3 separate regions of the Homo sapiens genome follow, and all the other regions are linked to region 1. Evidence: fine-mapped expression QTL. A gene starts in region 1. Each other region holds a variant in brackets. All regions are shown on one strand. Distances are from middle to middle.

Region 1 (2,500 bases):
CCTATTTTTAAATAAGATCACATTCTAAGGTACCGGGACTCCAACACAGGAACTGAGAGCAGGAAGGAGGACCACAGTCCAACCCCTTACACAGTCGAGCACTGGAGGTAAATGGTATTCTCGAGAGGAAAGCTGTTTGATGGCTCTTGGGATAGATTAGGTTATGCTCCAGCAACTGCCCATCTCAATTATCATCAGCTTAATACAACAAAAGTCTATTTCTCACTCACACTAAGACCCCTGTGAGCTGCAGGACTTTCTAGGACAACTGTCTTCCGTGCCATGATTCTTACACCCCAGATTGCTTTCATCTTCTGGTTCTACCAGTGGGGCAGGGAAGGGCTGGGGAGTTGCATCTCATAGTCCCCTTGCTGGAGAAACCTGGAAGTGACCCTTCATACCAGTGCTCATGTTTTACCAGTCAGCAGCAGGGCCCTAGGTCTCCATCCCTGCAAGGGGCTCTAGAGTGTAGGGAACAGATGGAATGTTCACAAGCACCACAGCCCCTGCCACAGTGACTTTTTTAGGACTGGTATCGCAGAGTGTTTACTTAAGGCGGTGGAAGCTAAATTCTTAGCATGTGCTGGAGAGCAATGAAAAAGATATTTACTTTATGAATTAAAGCTGGAGTCAGTGTCAGCCCGAAGGCTGAAGGAAAAAGAGCAACAGATCCAGGGAGCATTCACCTGCCCTGTCTCCAAACAGGTGAGGATGGGGAATAAAGTGAAGGCAGTGCTTTGGTGGGAACTTCAAGGATAGCCTCTGGCTTTTTCCAGGTTTAGAAGCTCATATGAGACAGGGGTGGAGGAAAAGAAGAAAGAAGAATAAGAAGAGAAAGTTGAGGCCCTGGCCCAAGTTAGTGGGAAGGGAAATCCACCCCCATTAAACTCTCTCCCTGGTGGACTGTGGGGTGCACACGTGAGGCCTGCACAGGTGCTGGAACATGGTAGAGGCCCAGGACATACTTCCTGTGAATGAATGATTGAGCGGCTGAATGAATGAGTACCACTAAAAGCCCTCTTTTCTATTCCCAAATGCCACATTGAGCAGAAGGGAGCAATCCTTGCTCAGCAATTGGTAGTCCCTTTGGGTGTGCAAATGAGTCCACAGCCTGCAACAGCAGACAGTCTCTGCCCCCCTTAGAGGCGATTGCAGGGAGGTGGCTGACCGTTGATCACACCCAGAGCTGGTTATGGGAATTTACTCCATGGAAAGACTGCAAAACTGCCTGAAATGTGTTTTGGCATCAGCTACTGACACGTAAGGTTTCCCAATCCTCAACTCTGTCCTGCCAGCTGATGAGGGGAAGGAAAGGGATTACCTAGGGGTATGGGCGACCAATCCTGAGTCCACCAACTGACCACGCCCATCCCCAGCCTTGTGCCTCACCTACCCCCAACCTCCCAGAGGGAGCAGCTATTTAAGGGGAGCAGGAGTGCAGAACAAACAAGACGGCCTGGGGATACAACTCTGGAGTCCTCTGAGAGGTAAAGAGCCAGCGAAGCTGATGTCCTGTCAAGAGCAGAATTCCTGCTCATTCGCTGCCTTTGAGAGTGGCTGTGTTGTGCATGCATGTGCATGATTTGATATGTATGAGAGGGTGTGTGTGCATGAGTGTGTTGAGTGAGTATGTGAGTGTAGTGTAAGAGAGGATGTTGGCACTATCAGGTAAGTACGAGAGTGTGTGTATGTGGGCATAGGTGTGTTAACATGTATGTGTTTGGGAACTTGTGTATGTGGAAGGGGTTAGAAGGCCTAGAAGAGAGAGGTTGATGCTTTCATTCTGGAGGAAAATACTGAGGCCGAGCCTCCATGGGTGCCTTGGAGACTCCAAGCCTTGAATCCAGTGTGGGGATATGCAAGCTATGTCTAGCGAGGGACACATCCTCTGACCTCAGGAACCTCCCAGGTAGTTGGGAGGAACCTGGTTCCAACCTCCCAAGAACTCTCAGTCTGATGAGGTACAGGGGAGGTCTCATTAGTGTATCATGGGGTTCTCCACAGGTCTGAGGGCCTGATGTGTGTGAAACCATTCTGCAGAGCTGGGAACGGGTCAGGAGGTGGTTGTGTGTGTGTGTGTGTGTGTGTGTGTGCATTGCTGGAGGGCACTCCTTGTGTGCTCTGAGTGTGACAGAGGAAGTCACCCTGGACTTAGGTTGGATGGGAGAGCATGTCTGTGTGTCTCAGAGCCACCAAGGAGGAGCAGGGGAGCGACGGCCGGGGCAGAAGTTGAGACCACCCAGCAGAGGAGCTAGGCCAGTCCATCTGCATTTGTCACCCAAGAACTCTTACCATGAAGACCCTCCTACTGTTGGCAGTGATCATGATCTTTGGTAAGAGCTGACCCTGACCTCTGAGCATGGGGGGACAGCCCCAGAAGGGAAGCACTCTTGTCCCTTAGTTTTCTCTCCCATTGCAGTGATCCTCTCTCAGGGGGAAAAAAGAAGCCATTTGGGAGGAAGGAGAGTAGCAGAGAGGGGCAGAGAGGGAGGGCGCAGAA
Region 2 (2,500 bases), 64 kb after region 1:
TTAGTAGAGACGGGGTTTCACCGTGTTAGTCAGGATGGTCTCGATCTCCTGACCTCGTGATCCGCCTACCTCGGCCTCCCAAAGTGCTGGGATTACAGGCGTGAGCCACCGCGCCTGGCCAATAAATGTTTGATGACGGGATCAAGGGGCCTGCTTAAATCCTGTTTGCCTATGTGTGCGTATCTAGAGAACCCTTGATACCCAGCAGCAGACTTGCAAAAGAGACTGAAAAAAAGGAAGGGAGAAGCCTGAACTTGAACTGGGAGGTTCCAGGTAGAGCGCTTTGTTCTGCCGCTTTAGCAGCAGTGGCTCTGCTTAGACCTTTGCTATTCAACGTGGTCCATGGGCAGGGGCAGCCGCAGAAGCAGCAGCAGGGATCCTGTTCAAAATGCAGAATCTTGGACCTGACCCCAGACCTGCTGAATCAGAATCTGTAAGTTAACAAGCCCCCCTGATGATTCGTGTGCACATTAAAATCTAAGTGCTGATAAATGGAGTCTCAGTCTCTGCATTTGTCAAATGGAAGTATGACATTTCCCCAGCAGGCTGGTTATGGCAAAGTTTGAGATAACATGCATGAAAATGTACAAATAATGGCTAGCACTGAAAAATCACTCGTGTTCTAGGAATGAATGAATGGATAGTCATTAACAATAGCTAACACTTGCTGTGCACTAGGCATTTGCCAGGCACTGTTGTAAGTGCTTTATGTGTGCTAATTCATTGGATGAGTAAAGTAGGCAACGGGACTGTGTCAAAGCTGGGGAGGGGACATTCTTACCTAAATGTTTCATAGTTTGCCTCTCCAATTTTGATGAGAGGATTTGGATTGGTTTTGCTTTTGTTCCTATTTAGCACCTAACAAAAGCTATGCATGAAGTGCAAAGGTAAAGACCTTCCTCAATTAGTGACCAGAAATCACAGTGGAATTCCCAAGTTCAATGAGGAGTCTGATTAGGATTTCCTGGACATGCATCTGCTTCACTGGGGTTCTTTGCAATGTCACCACCAGAGAACTGAATACTAAAGTTAATTCTTTCCTTCAATAAGTTTTATGCAAATTATGCTTCTGGTCTTTTCCTGGATGCTGGAGATAGACACGAATCAGACAGAGTCAACCAGCAGACAGAAAACAGCAATAATTCTACA[C/T]TAGCAAGTAATGTGACACCCCTAACAAGAGAGTATCAGGACTAATGGTTCTTAAACCCTCCATCCTTCATCACATCTCCATCCTGTCCACTGATGCCAGCTTCATTTTCCCAGAGCCTGATTTTCATCATGTCACTCCTCTGCTCCTGAACCATCAGTGACTCCCCATTGTCCACCAGCCCCTGGTATTCCAGGCTTGGTGTCATCTGCTTTTCCAGCCTCTTATGCAGCAATATCTATTTACTAAGCTCCTCTGCTGTCCTGCCTTCATATCCTTGTGCAGTAGCTTCTCTCAACCTAAAAGCCTCCCTTGCCCACAGGCACATCACCACGCTAAAATCCATGGGCTTAAAGTGAATCCCAAATGTCGTCTCTTCCTTTATATTCAGAGACAGGGTCTCCCTCTTGCCCAGGTTGGACTGCAGTGGCACGATCATAGTTCACTGCAGCCTTAACCTCCTCGACTCAAGCAAGCCTCCCACCTTAGCCTCCCACGTAGCTGGGACAACAGGTGTGTGCCATCAATTCTGGCTAACTTACTTATTTTTGGTAGAGACCGGGTCTCGCTATGTTGCCAGGCTGGTCTCAAACTCCTGGCCTCAAGCAATCCTCCTGCCTCAGCCTCCCAAACTGTTGGGATTACAGGGATAAGCCACCCTGCCCAGTCCCAAATGTCACCTTTTCTATGATGCTGTTTCAATTGGAGCGGATTTCACCCTCCTTGAACTGCCAAGCTGTGTTTATACCTTTCCTAGAACTGCTTATCCCGTTATTTGGGTCCTTGCATGGTGGCGGCAGACTGCTCTGGGTTCAAATCCTGTCTCTGCTACTAAGCTGTGATCTTGGGACAATTATTTATTCCTGAATAGAACCATCAGCCTCACAGGGTGGTTTTCAAGTTCAAATGAGACCATGTATCCAAAGTGTCCGGGGCATGCTAGCTGCTCCATCTACGCTTGGCCACCTTCTGTATTTTTGCTCTCCAATTGCAAATGTCACACAGTAGATGCTAAACAGGTACCTGTTCAATTGAATTCTGCGCTAATGTCCCCCAAAGGCAGAGATAGATGGTGCAGCATTTTTCCAGGCAGGCGCTACCTGTAACATTGCCAGGTTAGAATGCACACACAGGCCAACTCCAGACACTAAAAAGCCGTCAGGCAGATCTTTGTTGTTTTGGGGTTTTGAGACAGGGTCTCACCCTGTCACCCAGGCTGGAGTGTTGTGGTGTGATAAAGCTCACTGCAGCCTAATACTCCTGAGCTCAAGTGATCCTCCTGCCTCAGCCTCCTGAGTAGGAGGGACTACAGACAGGCACCCAGCCCCAAACCCCAGTAATTTTGTGTGTGCA
Region 3 (2,847 bases), 21 kb after region 1:
AAATAAATTAATTAATTAATTAATTAAAGAAAAAGAAAACGAAAACTTCCCAAGGACCATTTTTCCTCTCAATCTGCCTAAAATAATTTCTTAATAACTCCTACAACCCTCTGGGACAGTGCTTTTGGGATTGTGGCCTTTTTGCTGTCATGTCTTTGTGTCTCTCCACCGCACCTACTCTCACTTCACAAAGACTGGTGTGGTGAGGAGCAAATGGACCTCTCAGATCTGAGCTCTGTCACCCACCCACTGGGCCACCCAGAGCAGGTTCCTGAACTTCTCTGAGTCTCCGATTTCCTATATGAACAGAAGACAGCAACAGCTCATTGACTTGTGGGAATAACACGTGATACCACCCCTTCCCTGGGGAAGGAGGGCGCCTCTAAAGCAGTTGGACTGAGGGGCACATAGGTTGACAGGGGATGGGCTTGCAGGACCTCCTTCTGTTTCCTTCTCACTCAGGCTTTTTGAGAGAGGATACTTGGCACAAAACATGTAATTATGCTATAAGAGGACATGAGAGAGATGGATTTGTCCCATAGATGGTCTGCTCTGAAGTATACAAACATCCACTGCTATGCTCCCAAGACAACACCAGCCTCAGACATGAGGACACGCCTTGTGCTGGCCATGCCACAGGCAGCGGAGGACTGGAATTGGGTAGAAAGGGAGGGAAGGAGGGAGGCTGAGAGGAGGCACCCATGAGGAGACCTCGGAACTGATAAGTGGAGCCCAGCCATGCCCAAAGCAAATCACCTCTAGACTCAAAACACTACTAGACTTGAGCCAGGAGCTGTTAGCAGGGCACCTGCGAGCAGAAGGGTGCCACAGCTGGGTGAGAGTCCCGCCCAACCCTCAGCGAGTTGGAATGTCTTCTCAGCCAGACAAGGACAGCAGAGGGCCAAGTGTGGTGACAGCAGGGATCCTCTCAGAGCAGGGAAGGTTCCTGAATGTGCCAGGCCTCTGAGCCCAAGCCAAGCCATCGCATCCCCTGTGACTTGCACGTGTACATCCAGATGGCCTGAAGTAACTGAAGATACACCAAAGAAGAAAAAATAGCCTTAACTGATGACATTCCACCATTGTGATTTGTTCCTGCCCCACCCTAACTGATCAATGTACTTTGTAATCTCCCCCACCCTTAAGAAGATTCTTTGTAATTCTCCCCACTCTTGAGAATGTACTTTGTGAGATCCACCCCTGCCCGCAAAACATTGCTCTTAACTTCACTGCCTATCCCAAAGCCTATAAGAACTAATGATAATCCACCACCCTTTGCTGACTCTCTTTTCAGACTCAGCCCACCTGCACCCAGGTGAAATAAACAGCCATGTTGCTCACACAAAGCCTGTTTGGTGGTCTCTTCACACGGACGCGCATGAAAGAATGGACGCTTCAACCAAGAACAGGGGTTTCACTTTACAGTCTGAATTGATGAGGAAGGGTGGTCCCCCACCCCTGCTCGGGGAGGTCCTTGCATGAGGTTTCAGGGCAGAAGAGGACTGTTGGGGAGTGGTGCTCCCCCCTGCACCAGGCAGCGGGCAGTGTTTGCAAGGAGGCAGTGTTTGCAAGCACCTGATTAAATCTTTCTTCCTTGGCAATACTTGTCATCTCAGTGATAGGCTTTCTGGATGAAGAACAATGTACCAAGTTCAACTCACCA[C/T]GGAGCCAGAGCTCCGTCATAGTTGGGAGTGGTGAATCTCACTGGGTTTCCTTCTCGCTGGAGGAAGGAAAGTTCCTTGAATGGGATACAGCAGAGATGACAGGACGACGTCAACCAGCCTGAGACCAGGTTCCACCCACAAGTGGCACTGCCTGCACTGTGAACCCCTAGGCTTGAACAACTGGGGACTCGTGGGAGATGTAGGGCAGGTATCAGGGCAAGAAAAACTTGCCTCCTTAAGGATCAAACACCCTTCAGAGAAGCTACAGCCATGGAGACTATGGTAGACTGAATATCCCAAAGATACCTACTTCCTAATCCCTGCAACCTGTGAAGGTAACCTTCTGTGACAGAAGGACTTTGCAGATATGATCAAATCAAGGAATTTGGGATAGGGAGATTATCCTGGATTATCCAGGTAGGCCCTAAATGTAATCACAAACTCCAGAGGGAGTGCGGCCCTGCCTATACCTTGATCCGCACACAGCAAAACTGATTTTTGGATTTCTGACCTCCAGAGCTGTAAGATAATAAATGTGTGTTATTTTAAACCACCGAGTTTGTGGGAGTTTGTTTTACAGGCCTGGGCAACTAAGAGATAGACACACAAATTGGATTAAGGAGATCCTGGAAGACTGGGAAGGAGGTGGGAGATGTCTGCCGGCACAAGGGCAGGCCTTGGGCAGGGAGAAGCTGAAGGAAGTGGAAGCCAGGCCTCCTGGTGGATGGGTAGGGATTGCGGGACAGGCCAGGGAAGCAAGCTGAGAGCCTGCAGGACCAGGAATGTCCCTGCCCCATGCTCAAATCCTTGAGAGGTCCAAGGTCCACAAGAACCTCAGTGCTGTGGGAGTTGATTTGAGTGGAAAAAGAGAAAATCAAGGTAATCAAGAATCAGATCCAGGGAAGCAAACAGGAGAGCACGTGGTGGTGAGATGGCATTTGGAACCAGGTTTGTATTCAAATGTTCAAGGAGAGCAGGAAGAGTGGATGAAAAGTACCAGCTCCAAGACCAGTGCCTTCCCTGTGCATAGTTGAGCCGACTCCTAACAGCTTAGTGTCTGGGAACAGTCACTCAGAATGACATGTGTAAGGGAAGGTGGTGTTAACACCTGGGGAAATTCCTGGACTAGCTGCTCAGAGATTGGGCCTTGCTGAGAATTTTGGAAGTACTGCAACCATGACTG

Alleles and levels. Positions count from the first base shown, and alleles are read on the strand shown. Sizes are in standard deviations (SD) of each study's normalised expression. Not every link is listed here.
For the expression in lung of the gene that starts at base 1,449 in region 1, allele T in region 3 goes with a higher level than allele C (small effect, 0.20 SD a copy in GTEx).

Evidence for each region.
Region 2: its variant is fine-mapped to the expression of PLA2G2A in liver (GTEx, PIP 0.96).
Region 3: its variant is fine-mapped to the expression of PLA2G2A in lung (GTEx, PIP 0.96).

Annotation. Positions count from the first base shown.
Region 1 is chr1:19,978,567-19,981,066 of GRCh38, reverse strand. It overlaps PLA2G2A (phospholipase A2 group IIA), which reads left to right and starts at 1,449. Exons shown (of 5, transcript NM_001395463.1): 1 at 1,449-1,487; 2 at 2,188-2,333. The coding sequence starts at 2,294. RefSeq lists an enhancer at 2,306-2,500.
Region 2 is chr1:19,915,033-19,917,532 of GRCh38, reverse strand. No RefSeq gene overlaps it. Among named protein-coding and RNA genes, the nearest start is that of PLA2G2E, 7.3 kb to the left of the region's middle. The variant C/T (reference allele first, on the strand shown) is at 1,150.
Region 3 is chr1:19,957,539-19,960,385 of GRCh38, reverse strand. No RefSeq gene overlaps it. Among named protein-coding and RNA genes, the nearest start is that of PLA2G2A, 21 kb to the left of the region's middle. The variant C/T (reference allele first, on the strand shown) is at 1,664.